Linked DNA regions of Homo sapiens: region 1 is linked to region 2. The links come from fine-mapping of genetic effects on plasma protein levels. Region 2 holds a variant in brackets. A gene starts in the other region. All regions are shown on their forward strands.

The links. PIP is the posterior inclusion probability: the model's chance that the variant is causal. Protein levels are from antibody-based Olink assays in UK Biobank. Linkage for the fine-mapping came from a reference panel and not from the study's own genotypes, which makes the PIPs less certain.
Region 1: IFNL1 starts here. The variant in region 2 is fine-mapped to the plasma level of the IFNL1 protein (UK Biobank, PIP above 0.99).

What each region holds. Positions count from the first base shown.
Region 1 is chr19:39,294,288-39,299,663 of GRCh38, forward strand. It overlaps IFNL1 (interferon lambda 1), which reads left to right and starts at 2,120. Exons shown (of 5, transcript NM_172140.2): 1 at 2,120-2,305; 2 at 2,518-2,595; 3 at 3,677-3,820; 4 at 3,926-4,009; 5 at 4,104-4,386. The coding sequence starts at 2,135. The coding sequence ends at 4,229.
Region 2 is chr4:186,081,026-186,086,359 of GRCh38, forward strand. TLR3 (toll like receptor 3) reads left to right here. Exons shown (of 5, transcript NM_003265.3): 4 at 1,295-3,147; 5 at 3,620-5,334. The coding sequence ends at 3,848. Among named protein-coding and RNA genes, the nearest start is that of TLR3, 15 kb to the left of the region's middle. The variant C/T (reference allele first, on the strand shown) is at 1,895.

The sequences.
Region 1 (5,376 bases), not on the chromosome of region 2:
TTCTCATCTTCTACCTGGGCTGCATATGGAATAGGGAGCAAGTACATAGGACTCATCATACCCCATTTCTGCCTCTATCCCACTGTGGGACCTTAGGCAAGTCACTTTGCCTTCCTATGCCTCAGTTATCTCACTAGTAAAATGGGCATGATTATTGTATTAGTCAGGGTTCTCCAGAGAGACAGAACAAATAGGATGTTTGGATAAATAGATGATAGATAGAGAGATATAGACTAGATAGATGAGAGAGATAGACTAGATAGAGAGAGAGAGAGAGAGAGAGAGAGAGAGAGACTAGATAGATGAGAGAGAGATAGGAGGGGATTTATTAGGGGAATTGGCTCAGACAATTAGGGAGGCTAAGAAGTTCCACAACAGGCCATCTGCAAGCTGGAGAACCAGGGAAGCTTGTAGTGCAGCTCAGTTCCAGAATAAAAGCCTCAGGACTTAGGGGGTAGCTAGTGCAAGTCCCAGCATTTTTTTTTTTTCTGAGATGGAGTCTCACTCTGTTGACCAGGCTGGAGTGCAGTGACATGATCTCAGCTCACTGCAGCCTCCGCCTCCAGGGTTCAAGCGATACTCCTGCCTCAGCCTCCCAAGTAGCTGGGACTACAGGCCTGTGCCACCACGCCTGGCTGATTTTTATATTTTTAGTAGAGATGGGGTTTCACCATGTTGGCCAGGCTGGTCTCGAACTCCTGACCTCAAGTGATTCACCTGCCTCAGCCTCCCAAACTGCTGGGATTACAGGCGTGAGCCACCATGCCCAGCTGCACATCCCAGCATTCAAAGACCAAAGAGCCTGGAGTTCTGATGTTTAAGGGCAGGTGCAGGGTGTCCCAGCTCATAAGAGAGAGCAAATTCTCCTTTCCTCTGCCTTTTTGTTCTATTCAGGCCCTCGGCCAATTGGATGGTGCCCACCACATTGGGTAACAACGGGTCTTCCTTACTCAGTCCATTGATTCAAATGCCAATCTCTTCTGGAAACACCCCAGAGTCATACCCAGAATTAACGCATCACCAGCTATCTGATAAACTTAACCAGTCAAGGTGACACCTAAAATTAACCATCACAATTATAAAAATAACTACTCAGAGAAACATTAGGAGCATGAACTGAAATTAGTTAATGGGACATTCTTAAACCAATGGCAGAAGCTCCTTCTTGGCCAGGAGCAGTGGCTCATGCCTTTAATACTAGCACTTTGCGAGGCTGAAGCAGGAGGATGGCTTAAGGCCAGGAGTTCAAGACTGGCCTGGGCAACATAGTGAGACCCCTATCTCTACAAAAATAAATAAATAAATAATAAAGTAAGGTGGTGGCTCACGCCTGTAATCCCAGCACTTTGGGAGGCCAAGGCAGGCAGATCATCTGAAGTCAGGAGTTCGAAGCCAGCGTGACCAACATAGTAAAACCCAGTCTCTACTAAAAATACAAAAACTAGCCAGGCGTGATGGCATGCACCTGTAATCCCAACTACTTAGGAGGCTGAGGCAGGAGAATCGCTTCAACTCGGGAGGCAGAAGTTGCAGTGAGCCAAGATTGCACCATTGCACTCCAGCCTGGGCAACAAGAGCAAAACTACGTCTCAAAAAATAATAATAACAATAAAATAAAAAACAAGCTTTTTTTTTTTTGAAACAGGATCTCACTCCATCACCCAGGCTGGAGTGCAGTGGCACGATCTTGGCTCACTGCAACCTCCGCCTCCCGGGTTCAAGTGATTCTCATGCCTCGGCCTCCTGAGTAGCTGAGACCACAGGCGCATGCCACCACACCTGGCTAATTTAGAATAAAAAAGAAGCTTCCTCTCTGCCACTCAGGTAGCCTTATCCCTAATCTCAGCCTCCGTCAGGGACTCCCTGAGGCCAGTTGGCTGAAAGCTGCCCAGGGAGTTCTAAGGATTTCAGTTTCTCTTTCCTTCTTGATGCAGCTCCCAGCTCACTTGGCCCTGCCCACACCTGTTCCCTCATCAGGCTCCCAGACGGGCCCCGCCCACTCATGCCTCTTAAGTCAAAGTGGAAATTCTCATTTCCAATTACCTTTTCACTTTACACACATCATCTTGGATTGCCCATTTTGCGTGGCTAAAAAGCAGAGCCATGCCGCTGGGGAAGCAGTTGCGATTTAGCCATGGCTGCAGCTTGGACCGTGGTGCTGGTGACTTTGGTGCTAGGCTTGGCCGTGGCAGGCCCTGTCCCCACTTCCAAGCCCACCACAACTGGGAAGGGCTGCCACATTGGCAGGTTCAAATCTCTGTCACCACAGGAGCTAGCGAGCTTCAAGAAGGCCAGGGACGCCTTGGTGAGTTCCTGTTGCTGTGGATGAACCACTTCTACGGGTGTCCCAATTACTGCCCTTCTACTGTGGGCTAGCCTCTAGCCTTCCAACTATGGCAAACCTCTATCCTTTCTGCACTGGGTTAAACCCATGCTGTCAGGCCAACTTCATCCTTGCTGCTATGAGCTAGCTTCCAGCCATCCTGCTGTGGGCTAACCCCTGCCCTTGCTCTCTAGGAAGAGTCACTCAAGCTGAAAAACTGGAGTTGCAGCTCTCCTGTCTTCCCCGGGAATTGGGACCTGAGGCTTCTCCAGGTGAGCTGAAAGTCAGGCCCCCTTCACCCTTCCCTTGACCCTCTCCCCCCTCTTCTTAAGTGGCCCCTTAGCCTTCTTTGTTTCCCTTGTCCTTCACTCTCTTGGACCTCTCCTCACCTGTCCTGTGCCCCTGCCACTTCAAAACTGCTCTCTTGACTCTGTCCTTCCCCTGGGTCCCTTTTATCATCTCCCATCGGCCCCACTTCCCTAGCTCGCTCACCTGTCCCTGTCACTTCCACTCTCACTCTTCATTTCTCTCCCAAATGTCTCCAGTCTGTCGCCCACCTGTGCCTTTCGTCCTGCTCCACTTCTCCCTGTCTGTTCCCAACACTGACCCCCTCTCCCTCTCACCTGCCTCTGTCACCTGTCCCTCATTATCTCTCACTGACATTCATCCAGCTCATGCTCCCCCCTCATCCACCCTTCTCTTTTTTTTTTTTTTTTTTTTTTTTTTGAGACAGAGTCTTGCTCTATGGCCCAGGCTGGAGTGCAGTGGCATGATCTCGGTTCACTGCAACCTCTGCCTCCCGGGTTCAAGCAATTATCCTGCCTCAGCCTCCCGAGTAGCTGGGATTACAGGCATGTGCCATGATGCCCAGCTAATTTTTGTATTTTTAGCAGAGACGGGGTTTCACTATGTTGGCCAGGCTTGGTCTCGAAATCCTGACCTCAGGTGATCCACCCGCCTCGGCCTCCCAAAGTGCTGGGATTACAGGCGTGAGCCACCACACCCAGCCCTACCCTTCTTCTCTGTGCATGCAACTGTCCCTCTCTTACTGTGCCCCCAACCTGCTTTCTCCTCACCCGTCCCCACCCCGCCCCAGAGAACTTCTGTGACCCCCGTAAGTCCCCTTTCATTTGTCTCCATTTCACTTATCCCCTCACCTGCCTCCTTGACCATCCTGCCTCACCTGTATCCTTCCTCATGTCTTCCCCCTCCTGTCTCCTTCTCCCCAGACCCCTCACCTGTCCCCACCACATGCACTGTGTCACCGACCTTCCCCAGGACTGCCTACCTGTCCCCACTAACTGGGTCTTCTTGCCTGTTCTCCCTCACCTGCTCTTTCTCACCTCTCCTCAGGTGAGGGAGCGCCCTGTGGCCTTGGAGGCTGAGCTGGCCCTGACGCTGAAGGTCCTGGAGGCCGCTGCTGGCCCAGCCCTGGAGGACGTCCTAGACCAGCCCCTTCACACCCTGCACCACATCCTCTCCCAGCTCCAGGCCTGTGTGAGTCCTTGGGGCCCGGGCACCCAGGTCTGTGGGCTCTGAGCAGCATCCTTCCCCTGTGGTGGCCCAGGCTCCGCCTCACACACCGCCCTCTTCTGCCCACAGATCCAGCCTCAGCCCACAGCAGGGCCCAGGCCCCGGGGCCGCCTCCACCACTGGCTGCACCGGCTCCAGGAGGCCCCCAAAAAGGTGAGTGACCCAGGAAGAGAAGGACCAGGGTCTGGGGAGCCAATAGGAGCCCAGACCCTGGACAGCCCCTGACCCATCCCCTCCTCCCCTACAGGAGTCCGCTGGCTGCCTGGAGGCATCTGTCACCTTCAACCTCTTCCGCCTCCTCACGCGAGACCTCAAATATGTGGCCGATGGGAACCTGTGTCTGAGAACGTCAACCCACCCTGAGTCCACCTGACACCCCACACCTTATTTATGCGCTGAGCCCTACTCCTTCCTTAATTTATTTCCTCTCACCCTTTATTTATGAAGCTGCAGCCCTGACTGAGACATAGGGCTGAGTTTATTGTTTTACTTTTATACATTATGCACAAATAAACAACAAGGAATTGGAACCTTCTGTGATAGGTGAATCCTTGAGTGTGTGTGTGATTGTGGGTCTGTGACTGGGTGTGGATGTCTGGGTGATGCAGGCAAAATTTGTGACTCGTTGTGTATATTTGTGTGTGCCTGACTTCTGTGACTATGTATGTATTTGTATGGAAATGAGTGTCTGCCTGAACTTGAGTCTAACCAAAGGTGCGTAACTGTGCATGTTCATGCCCACACGTGTGCAAGTATGTGTGTGTACTGCCAGGCATGGTGGCTCACACCTGTAATCCCAGTGCTTTGGGAGGCTGAGGCAGGCAGATCACTTGAGGTCAGGAATTTGAGACCAGCTTAGCCAACATGGTGAAACCCTGTCTCTACTAAAAGTACAAAAATTAGCCGGGAGTTGTGGCATGACCCCGTAATCCCAGCTACTCGGGAGGCTGAGGCAAGAGAAATGCTTGAACCCGGGAGGTGGAGGTTGTGGTGAGCCGAGATCACATCACTGCACTCCAGCCTGGCCACCAAGAGAGAAACTCCATCTTAAAAAAAAAAAAAAAAAAAAAAAAAAAAAAAAAAAAAAGGCCAGCCTCCGTGGGCTCAGGCCTGTAATCCTAGCACTTTGGGAGGCCAAGGCGGGCAGATCACTTGAGGTCGGGAGTTTGAGACCAACCTGACCAACATGGAGAAACCCCATCTCTACTAAAAATACAAAAATTAGCCGGGTGTGGTGATGCATACCTGTAATCCCAGCTACTCGGGAAGCTGAGGCAGGAGAATCGCTTGAACCCGGGAGGTGGAGGTTGTGGTGAGCGGAGATCACGCCATTGCACTCCAGCCTGGGCAACAAGAGTGAAACTCCGTCTCGAGAAAGAAAAAAAAAAAAAGAAAGAAAAGAAAAGAAAAGCGGTCAGGATGCTACATCCTGGAACCTAACCACAATGGTGTGAGAAGCCCAGACATACAGAGAGACCACATATAGGTACTCCATCTGATAGTCCCAGTATAGCTTTTGA
Region 2 (5,334 bases):
AAGTATGATAAATCTGCATGATAGCATTATTTTACAGGCATTAAAATTAAGCTTTGGAATGCTTCTTAATTGTATGGGAGATGTTCATAATATGATATTAAATCTAAAGAGCAGGAGACATCAATCTTAGCTACTCAGGAGGCTGAGGCAAGAGAATCGCTTGAACCCAGGAGGCAAGGGTTGCAGGGAGCTGAGATCGCACCACTGCACTCCACCCTGGGGGACAGAGCGAAACTCTGTCTCAAAAAAAAAAAAAAAGAAAAAGAAATCAGAGCCCTTTACTCCTCTGGCGGTTTCGACTGCCTGCCGGAACTGGCCTCCATTCTCTCTGGATTCCTCCTCTCCCACCTGCTGTTCTCTTGTCCCCGAAGTGAGTCCCAGAACAGCCAAGGCTCTGGTAAGGGTGTAGGACGGAGCAGAAGGGAGCTGGAAAAACACGATAGTAAAAGAAAGTCAGGAGAAAATCCGGGTGGAAAGACGAGAGGGAGAGCTAGAGCTCAGAGTTCCAGAAAGGAAAGTGTGCCGTCACCGCCTCATCATAAAAGCCATCCACAACTTCCTTCCATGAGGCTCACTGAGAACAGCGGCACCAAGACACAACCAGGAACTGCCCCAGGAGTGACTTCACGAGCAGTTTATTCATTGCAATTGTTCTCATGGTGATAAAGAAAAAGTACCAGGAGATGGATCCTGGACTGGAAGGTCAGAGAAGCCTCCCTGAAAAGGTGGCATCTAAGCTGAGGCTGTGAATGCTGAGCAGAAGTTAGCCCGTGGCCAGGGGAGGTCAGAGGCTGGAGTAAGAGGTGGGCGCTGCAGGAACCGAGTAAGGAAGGACTCGTGCATTACAGGAAGGGGGAGAAATGCTCTGCCCATGGGATGTGGTGAAGGGTGAGCGGAGATGGAGTAAAGAACTGCATCTGGCCGGGTGCAGCGGCTCAGGCCTATAATCCCAGCACTTTGGGAGGCTGAGGCGGGCGGATCATGAGGTCAGGAGTTCAAGACCAGCCTGGCCTACACGGTGAAACCCCGACTCTACTAAAAATACAAAACTTAGCTGGACGTGGTGGCGCATGCCTGTAATCCCAGCTACTCGGGAGGCTGAGGCAGGAGAATTGCTTGAACTGAGGAGGTGGAGTTTGCAGTGAGCTGAGATTGCACTGCTGTACTCCAGCCTGGGCGACAGAGCGAGACTCCGTCTCAAAAAAAAAAAAAAAAAAAAAAAAAAAGGCTTTCAACAGCATTACAGAGTCTGTGTTCTTTTGATTGTTAACCTCTTTTTTTTTCCTACCTTTAGTTTTCTCCAGGGTGTTTTCACGCAATTGGAAGATTATTTGGCCTCTTTCTGAACAATGTCCAGCTGGGTCCCAGCCTTACAGAGAAGCTATGTTTGGAATTAGCAAACACAAGCATTCGGAATCTGTCTCTGAGTAACAGCCAGCTGTCCACCACCAGCAATACAACTTTCTTGGGACTAAAGTGGACAAATCTCACTATGCTCGATCTTTCCTACAACAACTTAAATGTGGTTGGTAACGATTCCTTTGCTTGGCTTCCACAACTAGAATATTTCTTCCTAGAGTATAATAATATACAGCATTTGTTTTCTCACTCTTTGCACGGGCTTTTCAATGTGAGGTACCTGAATTTGAAACGGTCTTTTACTAAACAAAGTATTTCCCTTGCCTCACTCCCCAAGATTGATGATTTTTCTTTTCAGTGGCTAAAATGTTTGGAGCACCTTAACATGGAAGATAATGATATTCCAGGCATAAAAAGCAATATGTTCACAGGATTGATAAACCTGAAATACTTAAGTCTATCCAACTCCTTTACAAGTTTGCGAACTTTGACAAATGAAACATTTGTATCACTTGCTCATTCTCCCTTACACATA[C/T]TCAACCTAACCAAGAATAAAATCTCAAAAATAGAGAGTGATGCTTTCTCTTGGTTGGGCCACCTAGAAGTACTTGACCTGGGCCTTAATGAAATTGGGCAAGAACTCACAGGCCAGGAATGGAGAGGTCTAGAAAATATTTTCGAAATCTATCTTTCCTACAACAAGTACCTGCAGCTGACTAGGAACTCCTTTGCCTTGGTCCCAAGCCTTCAACGACTGATGCTCCGAAGGGTGGCCCTTAAAAATGTGGATAGCTCTCCTTCACCATTCCAGCCTCTTCGTAACTTGACCATTCTGGATCTAAGCAACAACAACATAGCCAACATAAATGATGACATGTTGGAGGGTCTTGAGAAACTAGAAATTCTCGATTTGCAGCATAACAACTTAGCACGGCTCTGGAAACACGCAAACCCTGGTGGTCCCATTTATTTCCTAAAGGGTCTGTCTCACCTCCACATCCTTAACTTGGAGTCCAACGGCTTTGACGAGATCCCAGTTGAGGTCTTCAAGGATTTATTTGAACTAAAGATCATCGATTTAGGATTGAATAATTTAAACACACTTCCAGCATCTGTCTTTAATAATCAGGTGTCTCTAAAGTCATTGAACCTTCAGAAGAATCTCATAACATCCGTTGAGAAGAAGGTTTTCGGGCCAGCTTTCAGGAACCTGACTGAGTTAGATATGCGCTTTAATCCCTTTGATTGCACGTGTGAAAGTATTGCCTGGTTTGTTAATTGGATTAACGAGACCCATACCAACATCCCTGAGCTGTCAAGCCACTACCTTTGCAACACTCCACCTCACTATCATGGGTTCCCAGTGAGACTTTTTGATACATCATCTTGCAAAGACAGTGCCCCCTTTGAACTCTTTTTCATGATCAATACCAGTATCCTGTTGATTTTTATCTTTATTGTACTTCTCATCCACTTTGAGGGCTGGAGGATATCTTTTTATTGGAATGTTTCAGTACATCGAGTTCTTGGTTTCAAAGAAATAGACAGACAGACAGAACAGTTTGAATATGCAGCATATATAATTCATGCCTATAAAGATAAGGATTGGGTCTGGGAACATTTCTCTTCAATGGAAAAGGAAGACCAATCTCTCAAATTTTGTCTGGAAGAAAGGGACTTTGAGGCGGGTGTTTTTGAACTAGAAGCAATTGTTAACAGCATCAAAAGAAGCAGAAAAATTATTTTTGTTATAACACACCATCTATTAAAAGACCCATTATGCAAAAGGTAGGTAAACATTGTGAAATTTTAAGTGTGTACTTGCTTTTCAATTAAATTTCTTTTTTTTTTTTTGAGATGGAGTCCTGCTCTGTTGCCCAGGCTGGAGTGCAGTGGTGTGATCTCAGCTTACTGCAGCCTCCACCTCCTGGGTTCAAGTAATTCTCCTGCCTCAGCCTCTCAAGTAGTTGGGATTACAGGCACGCGCCACCAAGCCTGGCTAATTTTTGTATTTTTATTAGAGATGGGGTTTCACCGTGTTGGCCAGGCTTATCTTGAACTCCTGGCCTCAGGTGAGCTTCAATTAAACTTTTAAATATTACCAATATTACTCACAACTCAAAGAATTTTTAAAATAAAATTAAGAAAAAAAAAACCTGAGTTTCAGTAACAGTTTAAACTCTACAGAGTATTTTTAAATAGTATTGCTTCTGGCTGTTAAAAACCGTATATTAATTCTTCAATACATTTTTTTACTTAGATTCAAGGTACATCATGCAGTTCAACAAGCTATTGAACAAAATCTGGATTCCATTATATTGGTTTTCCTTGAGGAGATTCCAGATTATAAACTGAACCATGCACTCTGTTTGCGAAGAGGAATGTTTAAATCTCACTGCATCTTGAACTGGCCAGTTCAGAAAGAACGGATAGGTGCCTTTCGTCATAAATTGCAAGTAGCACTTGGATCCAAAAACTCTGTACATTAAATTTATTTAAATATTCAATTAGCAAAGGAGAAACTTTCTCAATTTAAAAAGTTCTATGGCAAATTTAAGTTTTCCATAAAGGTGTTATAATTTGTTTATTCATATTTGTAAATGATTATATTCTATCACAATTACATCTCTTCTAGGAAAATGTGTCTCCTTATTTCAGGCCTATTTTTGACAATTGACTTAATTTTACCCAAAATAAAACATATAAGCACGTAAGAACATTGTCTACTGATTAATATACAATCAGCCACTGAGCCTATGACAGCTTAAGGAGTTTGAAAACATTCCTCATTTTAAGAAAAGTTAGAGGTATATGAGGGTTTGTGATGATCTTTTTGTATTTTGGATGCACTTAGAATGAAAGATAATTGTTTCAATGGGTATAATGCTATTTCCTTTGTAAAAGAGTAAAATATATACCCATATTTTTAACAAGTTTAATTACAGTATTTTTTCAATGGAAAAACTTTGTATTTTAGTAAGTACTTGTCTCAGTGTTGACTTTGTTAAATGTTAAATATTTTTTAATATACATACCCAAGGGCAGAAAACATTTGCAATTCATTTTTATTAGTTAATGAGATGATTATTTGAATGAATATTGACTTGTATTTTCCTGAGATTATGAGTTTCTGCTGTGGGAGGGTGGAAACAATTCTCTTACTAAAAGTATTGTAGGCAGGCTTGCTTTCTGAAGGCTAATCACTATTTGGCTTTGTGGAAACAGAACTTTCCTCCCATGGTCACAGACTCAGGAGATGGCGTTGGCAAAATCACTTGGTCCCACTGGGATTCTTTGACTCCTGATCTTGAAAATTATGATAATAAATGCATCTTAGATATTCCTATGTAATTAGTGATGATGATCGCTGTATAATATATTCAAAGGAATGTATTATTTTACCATAAAATAATGTGCTACGCATAAGGTAGTCCTTATCTAGAAAGACTATTTTTATTTTTGTTTTTTTGTTTGTTTGTTTTTTATTTGTTTGTTTTTGAGACAGAGTCTGGCTCTGTCGCCCAGGCTGGAGTTCAGTGGTCCAACCTCGGCCCACCGCAACCTCCACCTCTGAGTTCAAGCTATTCTCCTGCCTCAGCCACCCGAGTAGCTGGGATTACAGGCACATGCCACCATGCCTGGCTAATTTTTGTATTTTTAGTAGAGATGGGGTTTCACCATGTTGGCCAGGCTGGTCTTGAACTCCTGACCTCAAGTGATCCTCTCGCCTTGGCCTCCCAAAGTGCTAGGATTACAGGTGTGAGCCACCGCGCCCCGCCTTTTTATTTTGTTTTACAATACAACAAAAAATTTTTAGTTTTACAATAAAAGAGAATCTGATTATTGGAAATAGACCTGAATAGCTTTTTGAAATATTTATAGTTCTAGTATTTAAAGAGAAACCTGAAATTATAAAGCTGAGTTAATTTCTATACCTGAAATGTTCATTTGTCTGCTGAATTCAGGGAGCATTTG